5 separate regions of the Homo sapiens genome follow, and regions 1, 2, 3 and 5 are each linked to region 4. The links come from fine-mapping of genetic effects on gene expression. A gene starts in region 4. Each other region holds a variant in brackets. All regions are shown on one strand. Distances are between the middles of the regions.

Region 1 (5,761 bases), 31 kb after region 4:
CTTCTATTCCTAGTTTCCTGAGAGTTTTTATTATGAATAGTGTTTTTAGCAGATGCTTCTTACACATTTACTGAGCTCTGTAGTCTGTTGCTGTGATGAGTCACATGTATGGATTTTCTCCTGTTAAGCCATCCTTGCATACCTGGGGTTACTAAGTATGGTCGTAGTGTAATATCTTTTATATGCTCAATTGGGTTGGATTTGATAAGATTTTTGTTGAGGAATTTTTGTATCTATATTTGAACTCTGAGCTTAGCAGATGTGTCCACCAGGCTGCAATTTTCCTCTCTTGTGCATTTGTCCAACTTCGGTATTAGGATTATGTTGGCCTCATAGAATGAATTGGGAGTGTCCACTGCTTTACTCTTGTCTAGGAGGGTTTGCTTACAAAAATCTGGTTCTTTTAAAATTTGGTAGAAATAGCCCAGCACTTTCTTTGTAGGAATTTTACCCCTAACTTTTTATCTTGAAAAATGTCAAACTTACAAAGTCGTTGAAATGGTAGTAAAGTGAACCTCATACCTTTCACCGAGACCCACTGCTTGTTAACATTTTGCAATATTTGTGCTTGTGAGTGGGTGCTCTCACTTGCTGTTTACATATATGTATATCTGTAGATACATGTGTACTTACATGTATATTTATATATGTAGTTATATACATGCTTTTGCATTTTAGTAGAATCATTTGAATGTAAGCTGCAGGCATTTCCTCAATATTTTAGGAAGATTTTAAACTACTGCTTTGATTTTTGCTTTTTGAGATTATCGGGCTATTTGTGACTTATATTTGGACATTTTATACAAATAATTTGACTGACAGCTATCCTCTCTCTATCTCTTACATGTTCTCCTGGTGCCTCTGGCCTGTGGTTGGTGAAAGCAGGTAGGTCTGTTCCGGCAGCTTCCTCTCTTTCCCTGCCAGCTGGGGTGGGCCCATCCTCATGCCGAGCGTCATGCTGTGACCTCCAGGAGGCATATTGTCTTGTTTTGTGCAAGGAGGAAACAGATGACAGATGCATTCCTTGGGGAACTCGTCAGGGCCACACAGCTGCTGGATGGCAGATCCCTTAGCAAGCTGGAGACCTGTTTTCTGGTGCTGCCAATGGCGCGCCGGGTTCTCCTGGGAGCTTCGTGCTGCTCATCTCAGGGACCGTGCACGTGGGTGAGCAGCAGACATGCCTTGTGGCCTATGAAGTCAGACACCTCTGGTATCTGGGAGACTTTGGCTGCAGAAGGATCTCTGAGTCTCCATTTGCCCATCTGCAGGGGGATCTAATAGTGGCGACCGTACCGGGGTTGCAGGAATAAAATGAGCAAATGCCTGCTGGGCCCTAACCTTTTTTGGAGGCACCAACCACAGAAGTGCTTGATGGGGGGCCATAAAATGGCTGGTTCTGGAGAGTCAGCATTCCCGAGTCCCCAGGGTCACTGCTCAGGTGACAGCTTTCTCAGTGCATCACCCGGAGCTGTCGCCCTCCTTGTAAGTAGAGCCAGGGCCATGGGAGTATAGAGTTGGATACTGCAGTTAGCTTGGGCACAGAATGGCTTATCTCTGGGGTGGGCTGTTTAGGCTCTGAATTTCCCTGTCTGGGGAAGAATAGTCTACATTCAAGAGCATGCAAGGCCATCTCTCCGCGGCCGCCTCTGTGTTTATATGGACTCGGGGGTTGAGGGAGCAGGTGTCAGCCCCTCTTCGCTGCAGAGAGGCTCTGTGGGGTCGTGGGTGAGAACCAGGACTTTGCCTCGGACCCTGACATGAGTTGCTGTGGGGTCAGCAGGAGGTGGAGCCTGGAGGGGTCCCAGGGACACCCCCAGTGATCCTCAGATGAGCTCTCGCCCTCCTGACCCCGAGAAAGGCTGATTACTGGTGATGATCCTGTGGCTTTGGAGATGTCCTGAGAGGCTGCTGGGGAGGCCCTGAGCCTCCCAGGCCTCCCTGACTCTCCTACCTCCTGTGAGAAAGTCAGATTAGATTGTTTTGTTTGTTTGTTTGTTTTCTAATACATGCATGGTTATATAAAATCGGAAAAATACAGAAAAAGTAAAAGAAAAAATGGCCCAGGGCACTAGGCCCAGGGCACCTGGCGCGGGTTGCATTTCTGCTCCATCTCTCCAGTTGATGTGTTTTCCAGAGTTGGCATCAGGCTGTACCCACAAGCTTTGATGTGGCTCTTTTGCCCATTGTGCACACAGATATGAGCTTCTGTGTTAATGCAGAGTCCCCAGAAGGGCTGTGCTTTTCTACTGCCATGGAGTCACCGGGCGTAGGTATCAAGTCGTGCTGGCTGGCCTCAGGGCCCTGAGCACTTTCTCACCTGGCAGGGACAGTTTCATAGCAGGGTACAAATACTGCACACCCCGGCAGGACCTGACGCTGCC[G/A]CCAGCCTCCCTCTCGGGCCTCCACGTCTCTCTTGGTGGGCCCAAGCAGCCATGGTGGATGTGTAGTTACAGGCTGTAAGGAAGAGGAAGGGCCACGTGAGTCCTCGCAATAGCCTCAGCAAAAGGCCTAGAAGCAGAAGGAGTGAGCCCCAGAGCTCTTGGCCAGGACAAGAGGAGGCCATGGCTCTGGAGACAGGTCTCAGGCCGAGCCAGCCCGCCCCTAGTCAGCTGCCCTGCTGCTCGACTGCGTGCCCTGTGAAGAAGCAGGGCACTGTCACCTTCTCCTGACCCCAAGGTATGAGTGTGTGCGTTCAGGCATAAGTGACATCTCGCCTGCCGGTGTCAGAAGCCAGAAAGTGCCAGGCAGGCAGGTGTGAAATATGAATGGGCAGCCTTCATGACCGGCGAGCAGCCCCGCAGGGCCCTCATGGCCTTGCTGGAGCCCTGCCTTGGAGCAGCAGGCAGGAGAGTCTGAAGGGCAGTGGGACACAGGTGAGGAGGTGGTCCTCACCCCTTCTGCTCATGGAAGACCTCGGCAGAGCCCCATTCCAGGTGTCCAGTCAGCAGCATCTGGGCCCGGGCTGCTCACAGCCATGCTGGGCTTTTGGACAGGGTCAAGCTCCCAGAAAGCCATCCGCCTGTTCTCCCCTCATTGAAGAGGGCTGGTGCAGAGCACCCCTGGACCCGGCGTCTCTAGCTGGCCCTGCTGGGAGGACATTGTCAGCACCTCCTCTTGTGGCCCCTACCCTGGGGGTGACTTCTAGGACCTCCAGAAGTCACAGCCTTACCTGACACCTGCTAGGTGGAGGCAGTCCTAAGCCTCACATCCCGGCTCTCTGCCCAGTTCTCTGTGCACCCCCACTTCAGTGCTGTTGGAGAAGCAGCCCGTCAGGGGACCTGCTGGGGGTCTCGTTCACCCTCACTGAGTAGGGGGGGCAGCTGTCCCTGCCCACAGCTGGGCAGTGCATCTCAGGGGAAGGGGCCTCACCTGCACCTTCTCTGGGGGAGTGCCCTGGGCCCTGGATATATCCACTGAGGTGCTCTTGCAGGGGGACTGCCCTGGTCAGGAATGGGAGTGACCATTCCTGGGACCAGGAGGGGTTGGGCGCTTCCTTCCCATCAGTGCCTTTGTGGAGGTGTGGCGGGTGTGGCCTGCATGGCACCCCACAGTGTGTGTCCACCTGATGGCTAAGCCACCCCCTGCCCCAGAGGGTTCCTTGTCAGGGCGCAATGAGATCATGCAGGTCAGGGGGCTTTGAAGGAAAAGCTTTGGGCTTCCCCCAGTGTGGGGCCTCTGCTTCCTGGTCACTTGCTCCCCGACCACCCCAAGGGGAAGGTGGGAGTCTCAGGCTCCTAGGAGGCATTCAGAGGGGCCTCCTGCTTTGGGGGATGCTGTTCCCCAGGCAACCAGGTGGGGCCTTGGTTTCTCTATCTGGGTGGGCACAGCTTTGCAGGAGGCAAGGCGTATCGTGGCCAGCAGCCTGCTCTGTTTTCTGAAACCTTTGCTGACCTTGTTTGTAAAGCCAGCAAAGATTTTCACCCGCTTGCAGACGTTGTTAGGGAAGGGGCTGAGGAGGTATTTCCTAAACCTACGCTAATAAAGCCTCTTGTTTTTTATTTTTTAACAAGTCAGTATTTTGACACAAGGTCAGAAGTTTTCCTTTTTCCCACCATTTAATAGCAGTGTCCTGTCCTTGAAACCATGAACTCATTTCCTCTTCTGACCAACCCGTGCATTTGGATGGCCTGCAAAGCCTGGGCGTGCAGTGCAAGCTCCCAGGGGCCCTGCCCGGCCTCCTGCCTGTCCTCTGCTGCTCTGCAGGTTTGTCTGGAATTCATTCCCCAGCCCCCTTGCCAGGCCTGCTCCTCCTCGTCCTCCAAGCTCCTGACCTGCAGTCTGATGAGGCCCCCTGACCCACCCCTCCCTGGCGCTTGCTTGCCTGGGTCTTTAGTGTCTATGTTCCTGGCCCTGCAGGATGCTGTGAGAGCAGGACCCTGGCTCCAGCCCGCAGACCTCGGCCACGATAGATTCCCCCTGGGAGGGAGGAATAGGAATGGCAGATTGGATGGGACAGGGACTGTGACAAGGTGAGATCACACAGCTCACATCTGCTGCACCTGCTGGGGTCCCCCACGCCAGTCCTGGGCTGGATGAGCCCTCACCCCTGCAGGGTGCTGTAGGCTCTAAGTCTCCCTACATACGCCACACACCAGATCGCCAGTCTGGGAAGTGGCTTTCTGTCTACGAGTTTTATGGAGACAGTCCCTGGGGCTCAGAGGGGCCAGGGTGACTGTCCCCAGGCCACACAGGACAGCTGGCAGAGCAGGAATCCCACCTGTTCATCCATCTGACACTGGGACCTGTGTCCCCTCTGGCTGTCTCATCCAATTCCTCAGCCCCCTTGCCGGACAGAGCTATTTTGGGGCAGACGGCACCTGTCCCACTGCCGGCCTGAGGGTGGGGTGGAGGCCCTCAGCTCCCAGTACCACCCATCAGTGGAGAAAGGCCCTGGCCCATGGGGATGGTTGTCCGAGCCAGCTGGGAGCAGTAACTGGCAGGCAGGGACACCCACCATGGGAAGGGAGACAGTGTATGGACCCCCAGGCAGGAGTCAGCCTGGCAGGGTGGAGGCAGAGACAGGGGTGCCACAGACGGGCCTTTCCTCGAGCCTCACTGGCCCAGGTGCTGGCAGACAGCCCTGCCCATCCCCCAAGGCTTCCCCTGGTCCTAGAACCTTCCCTGCACAGTGCAGCTGAGTCCTCAGGGTAGCAGAGCTGGGCCGTAGCGGCAGGCATCCAGGTGAGCAGCTTGGCTGTGAGGTGGGACAAGGCCTTGGGAGACTGGGTACACAGGCGCCCAGTGCAGGGCAAGGCAGGGCCTCACGTTGTTGGGCCCCAGTGGGGTCTGTGGACCCTGCCACCACGGCAGGCTAGAGAGGGAGCCACCTGCCCTTCCCACGTAGGGAGTGGGGTGCGCCCAGAACCTGGGGGCTGCCTTATTCTCCCCTCCTCCATACCACATCCAAGGGCACAGGACAGAGGAGTCAGACCTCCACCAGACCCCTGGCTGGGAGGCTACAAAGAAGAAGGGTAGAACCCAGAGAGCGTGGAACACTCATTTCCCTTACTGGAAAACAGGCTAGATGGGGACTGCTGCCCCAGGGCTTGGCTGGTGGTCGGCGACCTAGAGCACGCAGTAGGCACTCCATCAGCGTGTGTTCTCTGGCATGCCGCCTGTTTCCTGGAGGCCAGAGGTCGGGTCGCAGCACAGGGTGCTCTGGTGAGGCCCGGGCACCAGGCCTGCCAGTGGGGCCACAGTGATGACATCCTGGAAGCCTCCAAGGAGGAGCACTGGCAGGTCCAGAAAAACTGAGCTCAGC
Region 2 (5,761 bases), 53 kb after region 4:
GGACCTCTTCCAGCAGCGCTACCAGTACAAGCGGCAGCTGGAGCGCAGGGAGCAGCGCCTGAGGAGCCGCGAGGAGCGTCTGCTGCACCGGGCCAAGGAGGCACTGCCGCGGGAGGATGCCGACGAGCCGGGCCGCGTGCCCACCGAGGACTACATGAGCCACATCATTGAGAAGTGGTAGTGGCGGTGGTGGCCACGGGGAGGCCTCTTGGGGGGTGTGGGGGATAAAACAGGACAGACGACAGGTCCACCCAAGACTGTCAAGGGATGAGCATCCCAAACCTGCTCCACAGAGGTAGCTGCGTCCTGAAAAAAAACAGAGCAGGGATGTAGTGGGGCTGGGCAGGGATGGGGGCTTGAGAAATCAACAGGTGCAGCCCAGTGGGTCAGAGGAAAGCGTGCTCGAAGGATGCCATGGTCAGGGCAGGGCCTCCAGAGCAGGTGTTGTGCCTGGAGCTGCTCTCCTGGCCTCCTTGGATTTATCGCAAAAACTGAAGGTTTGCGCAAGAGACGAGGACAGCGGAAAGTGGACCTGCCAGGCCGGGAGTGTGTCCCTCACCAACTATGCACACAGCACTCGCTCTTAGCTCCTCTGTCCGGGCTACTAGGAGTGAGACCAGCTTCTGGCAACTGCCCCAGCTCCAGGCCATCCCATAGCCCCTCCTCTTCTGGCTGCCCCCAATGCCCCGAGGCCTGGGGAGCCCCCAGCTCACCCATCTGTAGCTCCCTCAAAGTCAGGGCCCACCCCATCTGAGGCAGAGAAGACTCGAGTCCAGCCCCCAGGAAGCCTGCTCCCCTCTCTGGCCCATGGTCCTGCTTCATGCTTTGGGTCAGGAGGCCAAAGCTGATGTTCAGGCCCCACCCACTCCCTACAGTCCTCAGACCAAGGAGGGGTTTGGGTAGTAGGCCCGAGCTGCATTGCCGGCCTTCCTCGGGCCAACTGGCAGCCCAGGAGTGGGGAGGCTTTGGCCAGGGATGCTGCCACTTGTGCGTGAGTCCGCGGCTGGCCCTTGGAGGTGACCATCCAGGCAGGCCTGGCTCAGACTGGAAGGGCTGGGGACCGAGGGCTCCCCTGCCTCTGTTCTCCTTTCTGACCCACTGGGATTTGCTAGCAGGCTGCCCCAGCCCCATCACCGAAACACATACTCAAGAGCTCAAATACCACTGCTCCCACCAGCGTACGGATTAAGTTCATCAGGCTTCCATCGGCTGGAGCATGGGACCATAGCCCCTGCCCAGGAGCCGTACCCTCGGACCACAGTGGCTCTGTATGGCCAGGAACTGGGACTCGAGCTTTCAGATTCTCAACTAGCCTTGGCAAAACAGCTGTAGGTGGCCTCCCTGACAACAGACACTCAGCCCTCCCCACCCTGGCTCTCCTTGCATTTCCCCATGCTCCCCACCCCCTGGCAAAAGGCTGGCCATGCTCTGTTCCCAGCAGCCGCGCAGGTTTCCCCACTGGCTGCAATGGCCCTACCAAAAGCCATGTTGCATATCCGTTGTAAGCACGTGCCCTGTGCCCTGTCCCCATTCCTTATGCCCTAGGAGGCCAAGCTGGTGTCTCTAGGAGGGCCCACACAGGCACCCTGGATCCCCCAGAGAGTAGATTGGTGTGCTCAGGCCGCAGGCTGACTCAGAGGTAGGGCAGTGGGCTCTGCAGGCCACCTGGCTGGGGTTGGTGGGGGTCCTCTCTCCTGCCCCAGCTTCCACTCAGCCACCACAGTTGCCACACCATGGGGTGGAGACGTGGGTCACCACGGGCTTGGGAGCAAGCGCCTTCTGCAGCACAGGAAGCCGAAGCTGGGGTCAGGTGAGGTCGCTACCCCTGGAGGTCTGGCATAAGGGCCCCACCCTCAGGTCTCCTACACTGGCCCCATTTTACTTTGGGGTCCAAGGACAGGATGGTCAACAGGGCAGGGTGGACAGCGTGCCAGCGCCGCGCAGGGCCACCTCCCTGGGTGGATGCATCACACTAAGGAAGTGAGTGCCAAGGGGATTTAGTGGTGTGGTTCTTTCAAAGGGAGGTCAGGGTCAATGGGAATCTGCTCGGACACTCAACATGGGGGTGGGTGCACTCCTTGGAGGAGGAGGAACACGTTCAGGGGATTGTGAGGTCTTGCACAAGCCACGTGGGGCACCTTGGCTTCCCGGCAGGAGGTGGACACCCAGCCAGAGGCCTGGCTCAAGGTGACCTCACCTTCACCATGGGCTTCCTGGGTGCGCGGGCCTGAGCGCAGGTTGTTTTGTACATATTGGAATATGTGTTAACTTATGCCCCGCATCCCAACTCACACGGAAGCACGGGTCTTGTCTCAGTCTCTTCGCTGCATTTGGAAAGCAGTCTCCTCTCGGGCCAGCGCCGGGCTGAGGTGTCCAGAGGCGGCGGCAGCTGGCAGTGCCCTCAGCCCCCAAGTGTCCAGCCTGGCACTTCCCATTCAGGCCACCTGCTTTGGGTCAACAGTTCCTTTGCCAGCAGCATCTCCTAAATTGTAAGGACTCTGTCCACCGGGGCCCTCCCAGGGCTGTGAGGACGGAAACAGGCAGGGAGTGGAGCTAACAGCTTAGTCACCAGGACCCCCAGACCTGCAAACGTCCCCTCCTGGAAGGGGAAGCCAGGAACAGCAGAACTGCCCACAAAACAAGGCTGTGAACTTTTCGGGAACTGGAACTGTTTAACTTGAACCCAGGATTGTTTAAAGCTTTATTTATTTATAGCTTCTTCTTAAAAAAAAGTGTTGAAGAAATTTTTTGGTTATTCATACAAAAAAATGAGTTGATGATGGAAAAGCAAGTCATAATCATCTAATTGTTTTTGTCTAGGTCGAGAATGAATGTTAGCTGATGAAATAAACCCTGACAAGGAGTGGCGGGTGTGCTGTGGTCTCTGCGGGCATAGCTGCCCCTCCCAGTGGGGTCTCACACCACGTCCCAAGGGCGGGGTGCTTTGCACA[G/A]GTGCAGGAGGCTCAGTGAGGAAAGTCCCATTAAGTAAGGCATTCTGAAAGAAAAAATGGGACTTTGTCATCACCATAAAGAGTAACCGTTTATTAATCATTAGTGATAGTATTTGGGAAGATGACACCAGTTGAGAGGGAGGCAGGTGCCACTGAGTTACATTCTCATTAACCTCTTCCCTCCCTGTCTTTGGAAATTTTGAAAGATTTCAAATGACAAAGAGAGTGGAGGAATAGTTCATGGACACCCACATGCTCTTGGCCTAAATTTTTCACCTTCTCTTATCCTGTGCCCACACTTTCTCATACACGCACACACGCGCGCTTTTCTGAAACATCTGAAAGTAGGTTGTGATCATCAGAATACTGCACTCCTAAATCCATCAGCTCGTGTCTCCTAAGGACGTTCTGCCACAAAACTCAACCCTGTTATCCCAGCCCCCCCCCCAGATTTTATAACAATACAGTATTTTCCAATATCCAGATCTTCTGGTTGTCCTAGAGATGTCTTCAGAGCATTTTGTAGCCCCAGGACCACACGGTGCCCCATGTGCCTCTCCTGTCTCCTTGAATGGAGGAGAGGGTCCCAGCTACCCCTTCTTTTTTCCGTCTTTCTTAGGATTGACATATTTGACTAGTAGAGACCAGTTGTCTTAAAAGGTCTGCTGATGTTGGCCGGGCGTGGTGGCTCACACCTGTAATCCCAGCACTTGGGGAGGCTGAGGCGGGCGGATCACGAGGTCAGGAGATCGAGACCATCCTGGCTAACGCGGTGAAACCCCGTCTCTACTAAAAATACAAAAAATTAGCCGGGCTTGGTGGCGGGCACCTGTAGCCTCAGCTACTCAGGAGGCTGAGGCAGGAGAATGGCATGAACCCGGGAGGCAGAGCTTGCAGTGAGCTGAGATTGCGCCACTGCACTCCAGCCTGGGCAACAGAGCAAGATTCCTAAAAAAAAAAAAAAGAAAAAAAAGAAAAAAAACTACAGATGTCAGTTTCCTAGTGGTCAGATTCGGTGAAATTGGGTAGGAAGGCCCTCGGGTGAGGCACCTTCCATCAGCCCAGGTGTCCTGTGGCTCTGTTCCCCAGATGAGGGAAGTCCAGCCTCCCCACTCAGCCCCTGGGGAAACCCAGCCATAGTGGTCACCTGCCAGCTCATACCTGCCACCATCCCAGTGACAAAGGTCACCAGGGTGTTTCTGGGAGGGTCACGGCTTCTACCTGCCACCATCCCAGTGACAAAGGTCATCAAGGTGTTTCTGGGAGGGTCACGGCACAAGTAGGGCAGGAGTCAGAACGTAGCTGCCTTCTTAAAACCCCAGTCTCAGACTCCACGTCAACACCTGCTCATGCCTAGGTAGAGTGCGGAAGGGAGGAGCAGAGGCCAGACGCCAAGAGGAACTCCCGAGTCCTTCCTGGACACTTCATGCGGAGGTTTATTTGGGGTGTGGACCAGCCCTCAGCCTGGCTTCTCCCTCGGGGGAGCCAAGATGGAAGCTTCCTCCACCTTCTGATAGTACCACTGGACTCTGTAGGGCCAGTGTCATGATCAAAGGTGAAATCAGACCTGAAAATACCTCACCCAGAATGGGGGTTTTCCTCTTCCTGCTTCTCTTTAGAGTTGAAGGCCACCTTTTTTTGTTTTTAAAGACAGAGTCTTGTTCTGTTACCTGGCCGAAGGCCACTTTATTAAAGTCCACCTGAGGCCAGGTGCGGTGGCTCACGCCTGTAATCCCAGCACTTTGGGAGGCCGAGGCAGGCAGATCACTTGAGGTCAGGAGTTCGAGACCAGCCTGGCCAACATGGTAAAACCCTGTCTCTAACCAAAAATATATAGTCGGGCGTGGTGGCATGCGCCTGTAATCCTAGCTACTGGAGAGGCTGAGGCAGGAGAATCGCTTGAACCCAGGTGGCAGAGGTTGCAGTGAGCGGAGATCATGCCATTGTACTCCAGCCTGGGCAACAGAGCAAGTCTCTGTCTCAATAAATAAATAAATGAATGAAGTCCACCTGAGCCAAAGACTCAGGAGGCTCAGGCCTGCCCCCTGCCCAGCTCTCATCCCCACTTCCTGCCCACTGCCACAGAGTCCCCACTGTGAGCGTCAGGCTCACCCGATCCTCCGAGGTCCCCTGCCCCCTTCTATCCTGCCAGGGAAACCCACATCTGCCCTTGCTCCCGGGCCTGTGGGTTTGGACAAAGGCAGCTCCTCTACCACCCAGCCTCGTGGCCAGCGCCATATGCCTCATCCCTCCTGCCCCGGCGTTCTGTCTTCACACCAGTTGCTCCAGCCATGGCCAGCCACGGCCCTGTCCCTGGATGGGCCTGTTAGGCCTGCTCCCCACTGCTCCCCTTGGGCTTCATGCCAAAGCCATCAGGCCAGTATCAGTCCTCACACCCTGTTCAGCTGGGGGCACCTTTGCACACAGCGCTGGGTTCTCTTCCTTGGGGAAGCTGGGCCCCAACTAACCCTACCTAGACGTGGTCTAGGTGCCTGGCTTGGGGCCCCTGGTCCCCTTCATTGTGGCACAGAGAGGAACCCATCCTCAGGCCACCCTCGCAAAGGTGGGAGCCCTAAGTCCTCTCCCGGGAGTGTACACCTGGACTCGGGGAGCTTCCAGCCTAGGAGGACTCGGAGGGCACACAGTGTATTCATGACATGAGGACACCTTCCTAGGAGGGCCTCACCTCAGGGCTCCAAGGACACCCCTGGCGGGGAGAGCCTGGGTCTGGGTCCCCTGACATGTAGCAGCAGCAGCAGAGAAACCTGCAGGAGTCGCTTTGTCAGATGAGGTCTTGGGTTCCAAGTGGA
Region 3 (5,761 bases), 250 kb before region 4:
TACAAGTGCTTGTTATATTTGCACTTTTCTGCAATTTTAAGATTTCTATATTTGAATTTATATATCCCATTGAAAAGTTTGGAAGAAAGTACATAAAATATTAATGATGCTGTCCTCTGGGTGATTTTGATTTCTTCTCTTTTTTTGATTTTGAGATGGAGTTTTGCTCTTTTTGCCAAGGCTGGAGTGCAATGGCACAATATCGGCTCACTGCAAACTTCTCCTCCCGGGTTCAAGTGATTCTCCTGCCTCAGACTTCCGAGTAGCTGGGATTACAGGTGCACACCATCGTGTCTGGCTAATTTTGTATTTTTAGTAGGGGCAGGGTTTCACCATGTTGGCCAGACTGGTCTCGAACTCCTGATCTCAGGTGATCTGCCTGCCTCGTCCTCCCAAAGTGCAGGAATTACAGGTGTGAGCCACAGCACTGGCCTCTTCTTTAAATTTTTCTGTATTTTCTAAATTTTCTGTTAGAATCTATAACTTTTATAATCAGTAGATAAATAGATCCACCTCCCAATTTTCCAAGAACAAATGCACTTCACGTCTCTGGGCTTTTGATACAAAGCAGAGCTTATTGTTGAAGCCAAGTATAGTGGAAAATCAACAAATGAGCAATGTTGGTATTTGACAGCAAATTTTCTTAAAGAAAACAACTAGAAATTCAGGAGGTGCAAACTGTTGAGATGAAAGGATTTTAGTGCAGCTTCTCTGTCTCTACTCGGTTCTATCTTATGCCTATTCTGTGGCAAAACAAAGGCAGGGACTACTTCCTAGACATCTGGGTGCTTCTTGCACGCAGTTCATTTTACCTTTGAATGTTAGAACTGGGCCACACATTAGAGATTATCTAGTGACACCCATCATTTTACCATCAGGGAAACTGAGGCCGAGAATGATGAACAGGCTTGCCGGAGGTCAGACTGCGGACAAGAAGTTCAGTCTGACTCTTGCCACACTGCTGCTCTGAGTGCTGCTCAGCATGCTGTGGACAATGGGGGTGAAATCACACTCATGCCCAAATATGAGAAATAAGATAAATGTCAACCAGGCAATGAATTCACATTATCTTAAAAAGAAGTAAACGTAAATTGCATTGTAGAGCAAAGCTAACATAGCTCTCTTCATTAGGCCCAGATTCCTATTTCTGTCCTCAAAGTCTAGTTGCCTGCTTGAGTAGGAGTCTCCTCCTTTATTGAATTCACTTGGTCCCGGATGATGCATTTGGATTTCAGCAGGCACAGGTAAACTACACAGCTGCCCTTCCACCAAGCATTCACTCACTCCATGCAGTACTTCCAGAAAGTGACCTGCATGAAAGCAGAGGGTCTTTCTAAGCGACAGTCAGGGAAAGAGGACCCTTCACCACTTCTGCTCATTCCACGCAGGATTCCCGGGCAGCTGCTCTTCACATTTCCACAGGTGCCTCGGAGAGTTTTAAAGAAATAAAATAATACAGCGACAGTTGAGGTTTGCCCTGTACCCCTCCCTTGTCCCACTCCTTTCCCAGCAAGCAAAGTCCTCTCCTGAAGTTAGCATGCATTCCTCCCGTCCTGAGAAGAATATTTTAATCTGGCCGTGCATCTAAAGAGTGCAGCGTGATGCTTTATTATTACTATTTACACCAAGTCACATTGAATTTATAACACGGAAACATGCTTTCTTCACTCACCATTGTTGCTCTAAGCGGTCTTGGAGTGGAGTCATGTAAATTTAGTTCGTCTATTTTCATTGCTGTTAGAATGTGTGCATAGGAATACACCATAATTTATTTATCCAATTCCCCCCGGTGGGCATGGCGATCTTTCACTACTGTAAACAGTGCTCCTGAAACCTGTTCCTATCTTCCCCTCTCATGGAGGTGCTGCCCTGGGGAGGGTGCCTGGTGCTAAACTCTCCAGTATTACTTATTCAGCCTCATCAGGGCTTACCTTCCTGTCCCCCAAGGCTGGCTGAGCTCCTCTCCTCCCAGCAGCACAGCCTATGCTACCCCAGCCCACGTCCCTCTTGTCACTGCTGCACCCTGTCCAGGGGTGTCCCGTGGCCATATGAATGGGCACTCCCCAGCCCCAGCTGGGGTGGGCGAGCATATTTTTCCATGCCTATTAGCCACTAGGGATTTTTCTTCTGTGAAATGTGTGATCATGTCCTGTGACCATTTTTCTGGAGGATCATTTGTCTTTCTTCTTCCTTGATACTGTCCTTAGGTGACAGGCTCATACCTGAGCCTAGGACCGAGGGTTTTTTAATCTTTTTTAAATCTTTCTTTAACAGGCCCCACTGTGAGATCCACACAGCTCATCACACCAAAGCAATGTCCTGAGTGGGCTGGATGGGAACGCTGTCCCCTCAGGACAGAGGCAGAGGGCAGTGCGATCAAGCGCTTGTGTCTTGCATTTGGAGCTCTGTGGCTGGCTCTGCTGTCCCTAGCTCTTCAGATAAAGGAGGGATGGTGAGCAGCCCAGGCCATCTGAGGAGCCCTGAGGCGCTGGGATAGACGGGATGAGCAGAAGACTTGACCTAGCCTTGCTAACTGCAGCCATTGTGAATAGCTTGTGTCACATCTGATCCGTATTAAGTGAATACAACCTGGCTCAGCTTATTATGAAGTAGAGATATCCTCAACATAAATTTCAGAAAGTAATGATGAAAAAAAGAAAGAGTTGAAGTGAGTTGGAGTCATCATAGTGAGGCTGGGTGCAGTTCTGTGTAGCTCCTTACAGACCCACAGTGGGAAACAGACCCGCAGAGAGGGCAGAGGGGACCCTCCAAAACACCTGGAGTGGAGGGGGGTGGACATTTAAGACAGGATGCCTGCAGAGGAGCCATGGGAGAGGAGGGCTCTGATTTGAACTAAAGTCTTCCAGTGGAAGAGAACCCTAGTGGAAGCAACTTCCCAATGAAATAGCAGGGCAGAGGCATTCTTAGATCCAGAGTGTCCGCTGACCACAGCCCAGCACCCCCACCTTCCTCTGCACAAGCCCCATATCCAGCTACAGGAAACCATGATATGCCTAGCCCTCAAAGTGAAACTCTGAGGGGAAGAAAAAATAACATCCAATAAAATGCAAAGCGAGGCCAGGAGGCATTTCCCACACCATGTTGAAACCAATGGGACGTCTTTTTTTTTTTTTTT[G/TG]TGAGGAGTCTCACTCTGTTGCCCAAGCTGGAATTCAGTGGCATGATCTCAGTTCCCCGCAACCTCCACCTCCCGGGTTCAAGTGATTTTCCTGCCTCAGCCTCCCAAGTAGTTGGAATTACAGGCATCTGCCACAACGCCCAGCTAATTTTTATATTTTTTAGTAGAGATGAGGTTTCACCCTGTTAGTCAGGCTGGTCTCGAATACCTGACCTCAGGTGATCCACGCGTCTCAGCCTCCCAAAGTGCTGGGATTACAGGTGTGAGCCACTGCGCCCAGCCAACCAATGGGAAGACCTGACGGAGCTACATACATTAAAATGAAAAGAGATGGCATAGCAGCTATGGAGGGGTCCTCAAAAAGTTCATGGTCAATGTCTATTATCAAAAAAACTATGCAGGGATTTCAAATTCTTTTGTGCCAAAATAAACTTGTACTAACTTGTTATAACATGTCTGAACAGAATCTAGTTTGGGGAAACAGGAAAGATAAGACAACAATTTGAAGAGTCCCTATCAGAGCAATATGAATTCTGCTAAAATAGAAGCAAGAACAAAGAGCAAATTTCCGGTGAAACTTGGGTGGAAGAACAGTGACATCATGGATACTTTATGAAAAGCTTATGAGGACAATGCTCCAAAGGAATCAGCAGTTCACAAATCAATAACTCTTTCTAAGAAGGGATGAGTTCATGTTGAAGATGAAGCCCACAGCACCAAACCATCTACATCGACTTGCCAGGAAAAAATTAATCTTGTTTGTGCCCTAATTGAAGAGGGCTGGTGATTAACAGCACAAATAGCCAACACCATAGACCTCTCAATCAGTTCACAATGTAATTGAAAACTGAAGGTTGAGCAAACTTTCCATTTAATGGATGCCAAAACTGTTGCACCAAGATCAGCTGCAGACAAGAGCAGGGTTGCCGATGGAAATCTTAAACAAGTGGGATCGAGATCCTGAAGCGTTTCTTCTAAGAATTGCAATAGATGAAATATGGCTCTGCCAGTATGGTCCTGAAGACAAAAGACAATCAAACCAGTGGCTACCAAGAGGTGGAAAGGGTCCAGTCAAAGCTAAGGTGGACTTGTCAAGAGCAAAGAACTTGGAAACAGTTCTTTAGGATGCTCGAGGCATTTTGCTTGTTGACTTGCAGAAAGCCAAATAACAATAACATCTTATTATGAGAGTGTTTTGATAAAGTTAGCCAAAGCTTTAGCAGAAAAACACCTGGGAAAGCTTCATCAGAGAGTCCTCCTCCACAACAATGCTCTTGTTCATTCTTCTCATCCAACAAGGACAATTCTGTGAGTATTTCAATGGGAAATCACTAGGCAGCCACCTTACAGTACTGATTTGACGTCGTCTGTCTTCTTTTTGCTTCCTAACCTTAAAATTTATTTAAAGGCACCTATTTTTCTTCACTTAACAATGTAAAAAAGTCTGTACTGATATGGTTAAATTCCTAGGATCCTCAGTTCTTTACAGATTAACTAAATGGCTGGTATCACCACTTACAAAAGTGCCTTGAACTTGATGAAACTTACGTTGAGAAATAAATTTTATATATTTTACTTTTATCTTTTAGTTCTATTTTTCTCCCAACTTTTTGAAGTCACCTCATATAAGATCACAAAAATAAATAGATAAAATGTTAAAACATTCTAGGAAAGAAAAAAAAGATGAATAATCAAATCTTGCATGGAGAGGGGAGGAATAAAAAATGGTAGAAAATTCCAAGAGTGCTTCATGTTAAAGAAAATCTTACACAGAACAGAAAGGCAATGAAAGAACTCAAAAATAGAGATTCTGCTAATGTATTTGGAGGAAGTGTACTGATGTCTGCAACTTTGAAATGCAAGGGATTGAGGAATGGAAAGAAAGATTTAGAAAGAAAGAGAGATAGTAAAGCAAATGTAATAAAATCTTGGTTGTAGAATTTAGGTGTTAAGAAGATGGGAGTTCACTGTAAAATTCTGTCATCTTTCCTGTATGTGAAAAGTTTTTATAGTAAGATGCTGAGGCAAGAAGATAATATCTGTTCTTTAAAATTGTCGTAAGGATTACAGGAGATAAATGTGGAAGGGCTCTGCTACACTATGGTGGATTTACAGATTTTAAAGATGATTAAAATGGTAGAATGGCATAACAAGGGGAGATTAAGGAGCTAAGGAAACAAAGAGCTTTTACAGAACTAATAAGTAAATTAGAAACAGAAAAGAAAAGACATGACTGATTACCAAGTTTCTGGCATAGAGGAAATACTGAATATAATCAAAATTAATGCAGAATGAAAAGATAACATGATTAAAGTAATTAAACAGATATCAATGGACATGAAAAGCAAACAAAAAGTATCCAACTTATGGATAAATGGTATCCCTAAATGAGGGAACCTACCAAATGGAAATTAAAATATCCAATGAAAATGAGAAAAAAATTCCTGAAGAAAAAGGAAGAATGTATAACTAAAGTTTGAATGGACACAACATATTTCAGAAGATAATGATACAGGAAAATCAACATCAAATCATTTGCTAGGATAAAGAAGAAATTCTTTAGGTATCCAGCCCCCCCACTCTGCCCCCACAAAAAAAAAAAGTTCCTTACCTAGAAAGAAACCA
Region 4 (5,761 bases):
CCTGAGACCCTGGCTGTGTCCGCTGACCTCCTGGAACCCCACGCCAGCCCCAGACTGTGCGTTTCTATCCATTTTCCAAGACATGACACTGAGGACTCATCGCGGGGAGTAGCGGGAAGTGGTGGGGAGTAGCGTGATGCAAGCTGCCCCGCCAACGAGGGCTCGAGCTGCCTTCCACTCGGCTCAAGTGTCCACTGATTGATGGGTGGCTCATCTGACTTGACTTTCAGAGCCCAGAAACTCACCTACAGCCTTAGGGTCTCAGGTGCCTGTGCAGGGCTTCAATCAAAGTGGAAGACTGAGCAAAGTCCTGTAGCCAGCCAGGCAGATTTCCCTCCTCTTAAAAGAATTCTAGAAAGAAAGGGCTTCCTGGCTAATGTGAGTGCTTCCCATCAGCCAGTGTGGCAGGTATGAAGTTGGATTAAATAGCTTGTTCTGGGAGATGTTGCTCCATGGGTCAGGCTGCTCTGGCTCCCATTCAAGGGTGGGACCTTATCACAGGCACTTCGTCCCTGCCTGGGCCTCAGTTTCCCCCTTGGGACAGTGAGATCATCACAGGGTGGAGCCATGGCCCAAGTACCGATGGCTTCGTTGGCCTTCGGAGCTGCTCCAGCTTTCCCTTGAACACTCTGGGCCCACGTTCCCCCTTGGTGGCAGTGACGGTCACCAGGCTCTCAGGAGTGGCCCCTGTAGACGCTCTCATCCCTGGCCTAGGGAGCTGGGGCAAGTGCAGAGGTGGGGAAGGGGAGGGTTCTGGGGCTCACAGCAGGAATCAGGATCCCAGCTCTGCTGACTCTCATGGGGTGAGAGTGGTTGACCTTGGAACCAGGGTCTTAACCCCTTTGAACCTCAGTTTTCTCTTCTGTAAATGGATATCACAGCCTACCCCCGCAGATTTGCTGATGGAATTGGAAATGACACCTCTACAATGCCTGGCACCCAGCAGGTCTCCAAAAGAGCAGCCTTAATTATGATGTAGCACGAGGATCCTTATCTGGGTAAGGACATCTGGGGGGTGGACCCGGGGCAGCTGTGCTCCCCTAGGCCACACAGGAAGGCTCCCCAGGGCTCAGGCACAGACTGCGTCAAGGGGCTGCAGGCAGGTCCAAGCACACTGCAGGGCGGCCCCACCTGTGTCCCATGGGGACTGCACCCCCACTCCTATAGGAATGAGTCACTTCTGGAGAAGCTTGTCCAAGCTGCCCCCAGGACCCTCGGGCCAGGGACAGTTTTAAAGCAGCCTACAAGATGAGCAGGGGCTTTGGGGCCCTAGGTCCCACTGAGGACCCCACACCATGGACTCCAGGGTGCGCTGGGCTGTGTTGAGGGTTCTGCACCCGCCTGTCCACAGCGGATATTCTTGCGGTCCCTTTGGAAAATGCATGCCGCCCGCTCAGCTGGGTTTGGGGTGTTGGTTTTTCCAGCTCTCTGGGTTTGCTTCCAGGAGGGCTTTCTGGTGTGATGTTGTCTACGTTTAACAGCTTTACTGAGGCATAATTGACACCCCATGATCGCTTCCGGTCCCTAACAGAACGGAAGGCAGGGCACCACCCCGCCTCCCCCCCCACCCCGTCCCCGGCAGGGCTTGACGTGGACACTGGGAGCCCACGCCTGGCAGCCAGACTCGCTCCCAGAGCCCTCGCTGGCCTGAACCAACACACTAGGGCCCACCGCGGCCGGCCCTGCAGCTGTGAGATCCTGGCAGGTCCCAGCCCCACTCCTGCGCTTCCGACGGGCTGCAGCCTCCGAGTACTGCCAGAGCCCAAGCAGTGTGAGTGGGCACCTGGCGGGACCCCCCGCCCCACGAATGCCGCGCGTGCTTGCCAGGCTGGGCGGCGGCGAGTGAGGAGCCCGCACCACCCGGCCCACACACGAGCCAACGTGGAGCGAGCCCTCCGCAGCCAGGTTGGGCCCGGGCCGCTGGACTCTCCAACCAACCCACGAAAGACAGAATATTTGGTGGGCACTCACGATTCTTAAGAATTGGCTCAATGTTTTATAACTCTTTCATTGGAGTATAATAAACATGGATGGGGGAAAATGCACCTCGTCTGATATTCTTTTCAAACAAGGAGGAAGCCATAAAGCCGCTCCGCAGGCCTCTGCAGACAGCCCAACATCTCTTCAATGCGGGGCTGCGGGGCACTGTCCCAAAGCCAGCCGCAGGGGTGAGGGGGTCGAGCAGGAAAGGAAAGCCTCGCTTTCCCTCTCGGTCCTGGTGGTGGGCGGCCCCCGCCGCCCTGGTCCCTGGAAGTGCAGCCCAGTAGGCTAGCGTCTAACTTCAGCGCCCCAGCGTGCAAGGTCAAGGCCTTTCCTCCCGCGCGGGCTGCGGGGACGTGGGCGGCTGGGACTTGGGGAGGAGGGGGTACGGACCCAGGCTCCAGAAGCGCCAGCCGCCGCGCCCCCTCACCGCGGCCCCCGCCAGGAGAGCCTCCCACGCCTCGGCTCCGCACTGCCGGTTGGTCCCCCACTCCCCTGAGGGCGGAATCACTTCCCAGTCGCTGGCTGCCCGCCTGCTAGCGGCCTCGCCACCGCAGCAGACCCAGGTCCCGCGCCCAGCACCCGCGGCGAACCCCGGCACTCCGGAGGCGGGGCCGAGGATCGGCGCGGGCGGCGACGGCAAGAGACGCCACGGGGGCGGGCCAGGGGCGGACCGGGGCGGGGCGGCGGCGGCGGACTGCGGAGACGCGGCGGCGCGCGGGGCGGCGCAGAGCGTTCTCGGCGCGGAGTGGAGCGGAGCGGGCTGGTGCTGGGGGCGCGGAGAGCGCTGTGCTGGCCGGGGCCGGGAGCGGGGCCGAGCGGGAGCGGAGTCGGGCGTCGGGCCCGGGGAGCCGGGGCCGGGCGGGGAGCAGCCATGGCACCGCGGAGGGTCGGGGCCCGCGCCGCTGCGGGCGGCCTGGGCGCCGAGTAGCCGGGCCGGGCCGGAGCGCGGGCGGCGGCGGAGGCAGCTGCGCCCGCGCCTCCTGCCCTCCCAGGCCCCGCGCCCCGCGCCCGGGCCCCGGCGATGGTGACACATGCGGCGGCGGCGCGCCGGCGGCAGGACCATGGTTGAGCGCGCCAGCAAGTTCGTGCTGGTGGTGGCGGGCTCGGTGTGCTTCATGCTCATCTTGTACCAGTACGCGGGCCCAGGACTGAGCCTGGGCGCGCCCGGCGGCCGCGCGCCGCCCGACGACCTGGACCTGTTCCCCACACCCGACCCCCACTACGAGAAGAAGTACTACTTCCCGGTCCGCGAGCTGGAGCGCTCGCTGCGCTTCGACATGAAGGGCGACGACGTGATCGTCTTCCTGCACATCCAGAAGACGGGCGGCACCACCTTCGGCCGCCACCTCGTGCAGAACGTACGCCTCGAGGTGCCGTGCGACTGCCGGCCCGGCCAGAAGAAGTGCACCTGCTACCGGCCCAACCGCCGCGAGACTTGGCTCTTCTCCCGCTTCTCCACCGGCTGGAGCTGCGGGCTGCACGCCGACTGGACCGAGCTCACCAACTGCGTGCCCGGCGTGCTGGACCGCCGCGACTCCGCCGCGCTGCGCACGCCCAGGTGAGCGCCCGGGCGGCGGGATCCTCGCGCAGCTGCGCCCCCGAGGCCGGGCCGTATGCCCGCCGTGCTGTACTGGGTCGGCCCTGCCTTCCCTACCCCCTTCTGCCCTCTTGGGGGCCCCCACTCGCCGGCACCCCTCCCGACCTGCCGAGCGCCCGAGGCTCCCAGCTCCTCTGGGTGAGCCGGCTGTCACCGCGCTTTCTGACCTCGCTCTCACTCTCTTCCTTGCCTTGTGCTGCCCTACTGCCGGCTTGACTGCGCAGCGCCCGGGTTTTCTCCAGGGTCCCCGCCCGCTGCCCTCGGGCCACCTTACCTGCTGTGCGCCGTGAGGTCTGGCCCGCCGGACTTGGGGACGCGGGCTTCTGGGTGTGTGCGTGGCCTACCTGGAGTGTTGGCTTCCCCGTGCCGCTTCGGTGCTGTGGTCCCAAAAGTGGAAGTGAGAGTAGTGAGGTGCCGCCCCTGTGCCTGGAGTGCCTGCCTTCAGAGGGTGGGGGAGCTGCCAGGGAAGGGGGCTGGCTCTGCCCGCCTGCCTGCCGGTGTGTGCAGGTAGAACAAAGGCCCTGTTGACCTGGGGCTGGGGGCGGGGAGGAGGCAGTACCGCCTGTCCTCCCAGTGGGGCCTGCCAGCCGAATTCTTCCAGGCACAGGCTTGCCTGGAGAGAGGAACAAAAGCCACCCGATGGGGGACCACCTTCCCCAGGAAGCTACCAGCCAGGTTGGGGGTAGTTGAGCTGGTCCAGGGAACCTGTGCTGCCACACCCCTTCTCTGGGGTCCCCCAGCCCCATGTCAGAGCTGAGCTGCGTGAGGACACAGAGCATGGGAGGGGTGCCGGGGCAGCTCTTCTGGGAAGCCGTTTGTAGGGGAACCTGGGGTGCTGCTGGGTTTCCAGCAGTTAAAGTTGGGGTTATTTTCCTCCTGTTCCTGTTGGTGCCCATTCGTCCTGCAGGGATGCCCTGCGGGGCCTTTCTCCCCAAAGTCTGGGCTGGGAAGGGCCAGGAGCAGGGCTTCTTGTCTGCCTTTTGTTTCTCTTCCAAATTTGCCTTAGGACTGAATTTGCAGACAGGCTGGTGGTAGGAGGCTGGGCGGTTGTAGGCGTGTTGGCTGGCACTCTTGGGTCCAGAGGCTGTAGGCTCTCAGGTGTGCCTGGGGAGCCTGGAAGGTCCAGCCAGCCTGGAGCTGAGCAGAGTCCGAGACACTGCTCCCCTGCACAGACCTCAATCCTTGCTCTGTGGTCTTTCTCAGGCTGTCAGGAAATTGGGGTCCTAGAGTTGGAGGGGCATCTTCCCACTTTTCTTTCTCCCCCCTCCCCCAACTGTACACACACACACCCACACACACACACACACTGCAGCTCCCAGCCTGGGAGGTGATGTTCTGAGCCTCTTACAGCCACATTCTACACTTGGCGGTCACAGAGCTGCCTGTCTAGGGCCCCTGAAGGATTGCTTCCGGCCCAGCACTTAGTCTGCTCTGCACAGATGCACGTTCCTGCTGCAGGGCCCCCCTAACCCTGGTCCAGCTTCTCTGTGCTAGGCTCAGCTGTGCCTGGGACCACAGCCATGCCCCCACCCACCCTTCCACCAGTCAGAGCAGTAGGCTCCCAGAGTTGGTCACTGACCAATACCAACAGACGCCTCCCTACCTGTGGGGGGTGCAAGGATGGGGGTCACCCCCTTTGCCAGAGGGACTTAGCTCGGCAGCCTAAGAGGATTGCGTGGAAGCTTCGGGCCGCCAAGAAGCCGGAGCTTTTGAAACAAGCCTGCTCAGCAGAGGCCACCTCAGCCCTAGATTGCAACCAGGATGCTCTTCCTGCAGCCCCGCACGCCTGTGGGTCCCCAGGGTGAAGAGCCTTGGCCTCCTTTCTCTGGAGTTTGTCCATGAGAGTGGGAGGACCAGGTGGGGCCGATGGGGCCCCAGGTGCTACACCAGGAAGGCCCGGCTCCCCCTGCCCAGGGAGCATGTGTGGAGCAAGAATGGAAAACGCAGATGCCTCTGGCGGAGGTGGGCTGCCAGCCTGGAAATTGCTAGCTCAGCAGCATGCGCCAGGGTTGGGAGGGGCTTCCAGGGCCGTCAGGAGGCCCCCTCTGCCACCCACTCTGGAAGTGGGTTGTGCTACCGGGCAGGTGACAGCACCCCACCCTCCGAGTCCCTCTTCTCCGCCTCCACTCCCTTCAGTTCTGTTGCAGGCACTAGGTAGATTGCTTTTTTAATGAGCTTCAT
Region 5 (5,761 bases), 170 kb before region 4:
ACGAAACGCCACAGGCTGGGTGGCTTCAACAACAGAGATTTATTTCTCCTACTCCTGGGGCTGGAGGCCTGATCTCAGGTGCCAGCAGGGTCCAGTTCTGGGAGGCCCTCTCCCTGGCCTGCAGGTAGCCACCTTCTTACATGGTAGAGAATGAGAGCAAGCTCCCTGGTCTCTTCTTGTAGGGGCACTAATTCTATTCTGAAGGCCCCACCCTCATGACCTCATCTAAACCCAGTTACCTCCCAAAGGCCACACCTCCTAATGCAGTTATATTGGGGGCTGGGGCTTCAGCCTAAGCATCTGGGGGGAACAGGCATTCGGTCCAAACAAGTGGGCTCAGTACTGCACTGTTCCTCACCCAGGCCCAGCCTAGGGGCCCTGCTATTCTTTTGCTCCAGGCCCCAGGTTCTCAAAACCGCAGATTCCACAGGCTGAAAGCCCTCCTGAGGCATCTTGAGTGGGCCTCTTCTGGCACCTGAAACAGCCTTAGGAAAAGCAGCATCCTTCTTGCTTCCCTAGCTAGAAGATAAATTCGCCCTCCCACTGACAGCCCCATTTTCTGAGGGCCGAGTGCTCTGGGTCCCTGCAGGATGGTGGGATTACCGAGAGCAAAGAGAGCCAGCCTCACCTTGGGGAACACGCAGACCCAGAGCACCCACTGTCCACAGACAGGCAGAGGGTCCCAGCTAGACTGCCCCAGCCGCAGGGCTCCTGGCAGTAGAATGCTGCTAGCAGGGCCAGTCAGGCTTCCCAGAGCTTAACCTGAGGTTTAGCATCAAAATGCCTGCACTTACAAATGTAAATAACGCTCCAAATACCTTAGACCAACATCAGTGCTGGGTTTGGCTTGCAAATAATTCATGTTTGGTCTAAATGGGTTTATTCTGCCTCGTTTGAGTGATTAGTTGCCTTAGAAAGCATCAAGGAATAGAGGCTCTACTAAGCCAGCAAGAAGGGGATAATGCAGGAATTGAAATGCAGAGAGGACTTCTCAGGGCCAGGCTGTTAGCAATTGCTATTAGATTAAGGGATCATTTGGCGGAATTTAAAATGGAAGTAGGCACAACTCAGGAGAAAGAATGAGAGAGAATATTTCTCCCGCATCTCGCTGGAGGGTGGAGGAGACAGGCTGGTGCTCTCCAGTGTCTGGGCTGCAGCACAGAGTTCTGCTTTTCAGAGGGGAGGGCTGACCAAGGAGTGTCTGCTGTCCAATGCTTCTCAAATGCCACCAAGTCCCCTTGCCGCCCACACTGGCTCCCACAGCTTAGTTCTATTACGCAGTGGAAATGCAGGCCCATGCTGAGGAGGTAAACCAAAAGCAAAGTGTTAGGAAGAAGAGGTCACCAACTGCGGGCAGCTGGGGACAGGGTAGTGCTGCCAGCCCCACGGGCACCATTTGCATGGCCACTGCTGACAACACTGCACATGGGACAGTCCCTTGGAGGCTTCTGACCACAGGCCAGAGAGCGACTAATAAGTGGAGAGTGGGGACTGCCTACACCCAGGCCAAAATACCCCTTGCTAGAGTCCGGCTTCCAGACCACCAACTTCACTGCAGAACTTGATTCTCCTATCAAGCAGGGTCTCTTGGCCCAGCCAACAAGAACAATGATGAAGACATATTGACTGCTGCCTGCACAAACCCCTGGGCTAAGGGCATTACATGATCCGTCCTATTGAATCCTTACAACAGTCTGGAAGCTGGGGCTGGCATTATCCCATTCTCCAGATGAGAAATCCTAAGTGGAGGGAGAGTACGACCTGCCCAGAGTCGCACCCTGAAGACCTGCAGGTGGAGGATGTAGAGAAAGGAGGAATTGCGATTCCCTGATCTGGGGGTTGGACTGTGGGTGGAAGGTAGTGCCTTTCCCCTGAGGCTGGTGAGTGCCAGTGTCTGTTGGACAAGTCAGTGAACATGTCCTAGAGACAACTGGATGTAAGTCTGCAGCCCAGTGGAGAGGTTAAGGCAGAATTAGAAATGTTGGTGAAGGTGTCAGTGGTGTTGATGGTGTGCGGGATAGCCGTGATGGATCCACAGCTGCTCTCTATTCCCAAATGATGCTTTTCTATTCCAGCCAGGGCCAGGTGTGCAGGAAAGGGAGGTAGGGAAGTTTCCCTTCAAGCCCCTTCCCAGGGCCCTGCCCCTCTGTTCCAATGTGTCTGGGATTGTCAGGCAGTAGGCCGTGCCTAAGACTATGTGACAAGGACTGGATGCTTACTGAGGTCATATCCTGTGAGCCTCTCCTCCCATGAATAAATGCTTCACCCCAAGAACTCCCGCCTGCCTCTGCAGAACCCTCCTCTCTTGTTCCAGAGCTGCTCCCCCTTCCCTTCCTCCTTCTCCTTTGCCTGTGTCAAGCACGTCCGTGTGAAGAGACCACCAACAGGATTTGTGTGAGCAATAAAGCTGTTTATTCACTTGGGTGCAAGTGGGCTGAGTCCGAAAAGAGAGTCAGCAAAGGGAAATGGGGAAGGGAGTTGGGTAGGTAATGGAAAATTACAGTAAAATGTGGTTATTGTTAGCAGAGGAGGGGGTTACAACGTACATGGTGGAGAGATCATAAGATTCATTGTCCAGAAGAAGAATGTCACAAAGTCGATTGGCCAGCTAAGGTAGGGCAGCGACAAGTCACAATAGTAAAATGTTGTAATGTTGGTTAATCAGTTAAGCCAGGAACTGGCTGTTTTCCTTCTTTGTGGTTTTTTGACTGCTCCCCATTTCTTGGCTCCTGCAGGCCACCTGGATGTGTATGTATGTGCAGGTCACAGAGGTTATAATGGCTGAGCTT[T/C]GGCTCAGAGCCTGACAGCCTGGTCTCCTTTAGTTTGAGGAGAGGAAAATCAGGTCCTACAAGCTTGCACATCTTTGGAGGCCCGCCTTTCTGTCTCCATTTCTGTCTCTTTCCTCTGTCAGTATGAAACAGTGGAGGGAAACAACTTGTGGGGTCCTGCCAGGAGAAAGGGAGGAAGGGCCGGGTAAGGTCCCCTGGGGAGGAATAGAGACAAGGAAGGGAAAGGGCGGGGTCAGAACCAGCGCTCCCACATCCAGATGAGAGGAGAAGGGGGCCGAGAGGGGCAGCCTGGGGCCGAGGGTGGGGCTGGGACTGATAAGAACCTCAGGGTGAGGGCATGCCCAAAAACTGAGAACAGGGCAGAGCAGGGCTTTCAAAACTGCTGAGAAGTAAAGAGGGGCACAGATAAGTGGGATTTACAACTTGGAGGTCATGAGTGACTATGATAAGCTATGATGGGAGGAGGGGCAGTTCCAGTGGGATAAGGAATGAAAGGATGTCCAGAAGAGGCAACCTGTTGGGGAAGTCATGGAAAATGAGGCTGCAAAGAAGTGGAACTGCCTCCCAGGGGTGTGCCTGGGTCATTATCCTGGGACAAGGAACCAGCTAAGGTGGAATGTAGGTTTGCTGATGTTCAGCCATTCCACAGTTGGCTGAGTCCATCCTGATTATCCATCTCTCATCAAAGAATATTTGCAAATCACAAATTTTAATCAGGTCTGACTTTCTAGTTTGTTTTGTGTGTGTGTGGAAATACTTTTATTGTTTTTTCTGATTGCAAAAATAACATATGCTAGGTTTTTTTAGAAAATGAGTAAAATAGAGCATGTATTTCTCCACTTCCATTTTTTCTCAGGCTAACCACTGCTTCTAGATCTTTACAGACATTTTTCTTTACATCTTTACTTTTTTAACAAACATAGACAGAGATAAACATTGTTCTGTATGCTGCTTTGATATCTAACAATCATTGACGTCTTTCCATATCAGTGCAGACTGATCAATTTCATTGTTTTAATAGGGTCAAAGGAGTCTACTGTTTTCATGGGTATTATTTATCTTATCTTCTCCCAGCCATCTACATTTAGAGTACTTCCATTCGGTTGTTGTTGTTGTTGTTTCTCTGGGAATTGATGAAATAAACATCCTTATACATACTTAATGCATCTGTGCAGGTACAACACATTCTTAGAACCTGCATTATTGAGTCAATGGTAAGCACATTTGAAATGTTCATAAAAATTTCCATATTTTCCCTCAAAAACAAGTACAGCAACACCACTGGCATTGTATATGGGTTCCCTTTGAATCTTTACTGAACTGATAGATGAAAAATTCTTTCCTGTGGGGGATGTTGCAGTGGGGGAGGCTGTGGTGTGTGGGCTCAAGGTATGTATGGAATTTCTCAGTACCTTCGGCTCGATTTTGCTATAAGAACCTAAAACTGCTCCAAAAAATAAAGTCTGTTAAAAATGATTTGTCAGTGTTATTTAAATTTTTCATTCCTTCAATTAATTTTAAGGTAGGACAACTTTTGATACATTTCTTAGCCAGGTGTGCTAACTCTCCTGTAAATTTCCTTTCATGTCTTTTGCTTATTTTCCTATTAGATTTCTTATCTTATTGGGTTATCTGAACTTTTCATGTATTATGAAGAGTAAGAAGTTGTTCTTAAACAGAAGAAAAAGCACTGACTCTTAAAGCCCCCAGGCTGCTGGGAGAGGAATGAGTTGAAGGAGGAGGTGGGCAGTGGGAGCCAGTGAAGAAGCTGTTCCCTGTCGGCCCCTATCCCATGCCCCACATGGCGTGGACACAGGTCAGCACTGGCTCTCTTCCTTCTTCCAGCACCCACCCCTGCAGTTTTGACTCTGACCTCCCCTGTCTTCACCTTACATTATCTGCTTTTAATACTCATTCGTTTGATCTCCTGTTTCTGCTCTGAGGTTTTTAAAATGGATTTTGGGGTCATCTGTGTTGGATGACAGGAGGCAGGTAAGGAGTCCCTTGGAAAAGGTGGACAATTAGATTTAATTAAATTAAATCCAGTGCTACCAGTGCTAGACAGAACAGTGTGGGAAAGGGGAGAGGAGGAGAGAAGAGACCCATGGGGTTGGGGAGGGAAGAGTAATCAGGGAAGTCTTCCTGGAGGAGGTACTACTAAATAGAAATTTCAATGCTGAATAAATTCATGTGGCAGAGCTTCTAGTGGTTCCCCAGTATCTGTCTTCCCTTTCTCTCCACTGTCAGCTGGATTTCCAGCCATCTAGACTACAGAAATCATTTCCCAGACTCTATTGCAGCAGATTTGGCCATGTGACTAATCATGGCCAGTGGGGTGTTAAGCAGAAGTAATGATGCCCCATTTCCGCGTTGTCTTTAAAGGGCAGGGCTGTGCCTCGCCTTGTCCTTTTCTCCCTTCTCTCTGGCTGAATGCAGGCATTGTGAGGAGCCATACTGGAACCCCCAGGTCCTTGATGACAGACAGAAGCTGAGAGGAGCCACTCCACCAGCTGTTTTGTTTATGCTCACATTTATGGAGGGCTTGCTCTGCACTAGACACCTTGCTAAGCACCTCCCAGCTATCATCTCATTTAATCTTCTCAACAACCTGGAGGTGGGTACCATTCCTATCTCTGTATTGAGAATGAGGAAACTGAGTCACAGAGAGGTTAAGTAACTCATCCAAAGCCACACAGCTTGTGAGAGATGAATCTGGAATGTGCACCAGTAACCCTGGAATCAGGACCACTCCAGACCCTGAGCTCTTAGCCAATATATTTTGAAGCCTCTCTGTGCCTTCCTGCATCCCTCGCAGATGGACAAAGTTCCCGTCCTCCTGGGGCTGACAGACCAACAAGTGAGCAAGTAAAATAGGTAGTAAGTTACACAATGAGATGTACTACAGAGATTAAAGCAGGAAACAGGAATGGGCTGAACAGAATGATCAGAAGAGGACATCTGAGCAGAGGCTG

Evidence for each region.
Region 1: its variant is fine-mapped to the expression of HS6ST1 in whole blood (TOPMed, PIP above 0.99).
Region 2: its variant is fine-mapped to the expression of HS6ST1 in whole blood (TOPMed, PIP above 0.99). The same link has a PIP of 0.9 or more in blood mononuclear cells.
Region 3: its variant is fine-mapped to the expression of HS6ST1 in whole blood (INTERVAL, PIP 0.98).
Region 5: its variant is fine-mapped to the expression of HS6ST1 in nasal epithelium (TOPMed, PIP above 0.99). The same link has a PIP of 0.9 or more in unexposed skin.

What each region holds. Positions count from the first base shown.
Region 1 is chr2:128,284,918-128,290,678 of GRCh38, reverse strand. The region is part of intron 1 of HS6ST1 (heparan sulfate 6-O-sulfotransferase 1); the gene reads left to right. Among named protein-coding and RNA genes, the nearest start is that of HS6ST1, 31 kb to the left of the region's middle. RefSeq lists enhancers at 2,017-2,846, 5,341-5,761. The variant G/A (reference allele first, on the strand shown) is at 2,382.
Region 2 is chr2:128,262,582-128,268,342 of GRCh38, reverse strand. HS6ST1 (heparan sulfate 6-O-sulfotransferase 1) reads left to right here. Exons shown (of 2, transcript NM_004807.3): 2 at 1-2,863. The coding sequence ends at 181. Among named protein-coding and RNA genes, the nearest start is that of HS6ST1, 53 kb to the left of the region's middle. RefSeq lists an enhancer at 5,269-5,761. The variant G/A (reference allele first, on the strand shown) is at 2,952.
Region 3 is chr2:128,569,965-128,575,725 of GRCh38, reverse strand. All of the region lies in intron 1 of LOC105373611 (a long non-coding RNA gene), which reads right to left. Among named protein-coding and RNA genes, the nearest start is that of HS6ST1, 250 kb to the right of the region's middle. The variant G/TG (reference allele first, on the strand shown) is at 3,137.
Region 4 is chr2:128,315,817-128,321,577 of GRCh38, reverse strand. HS6ST1 (heparan sulfate 6-O-sulfotransferase 1) reads left to right here and starts at 2,710. Exons shown (of 2, transcript NM_004807.3): 1 at 2,710-3,541. The coding sequence starts at 3,015. RefSeq lists silencers at 2,368-2,777, 3,472-3,701 and an enhancer at 4,703-4,852.
Region 5 is chr2:128,487,030-128,492,790 of GRCh38, reverse strand. All of the region lies in intron 1 of LOC105373611 (a long non-coding RNA gene), which reads right to left. Among named protein-coding and RNA genes, the nearest start is that of HS6ST1, 170 kb to the right of the region's middle. RefSeq lists enhancers at 122-416, 231-1,032. The variant T/C (reference allele first, on the strand shown) is at 2,790.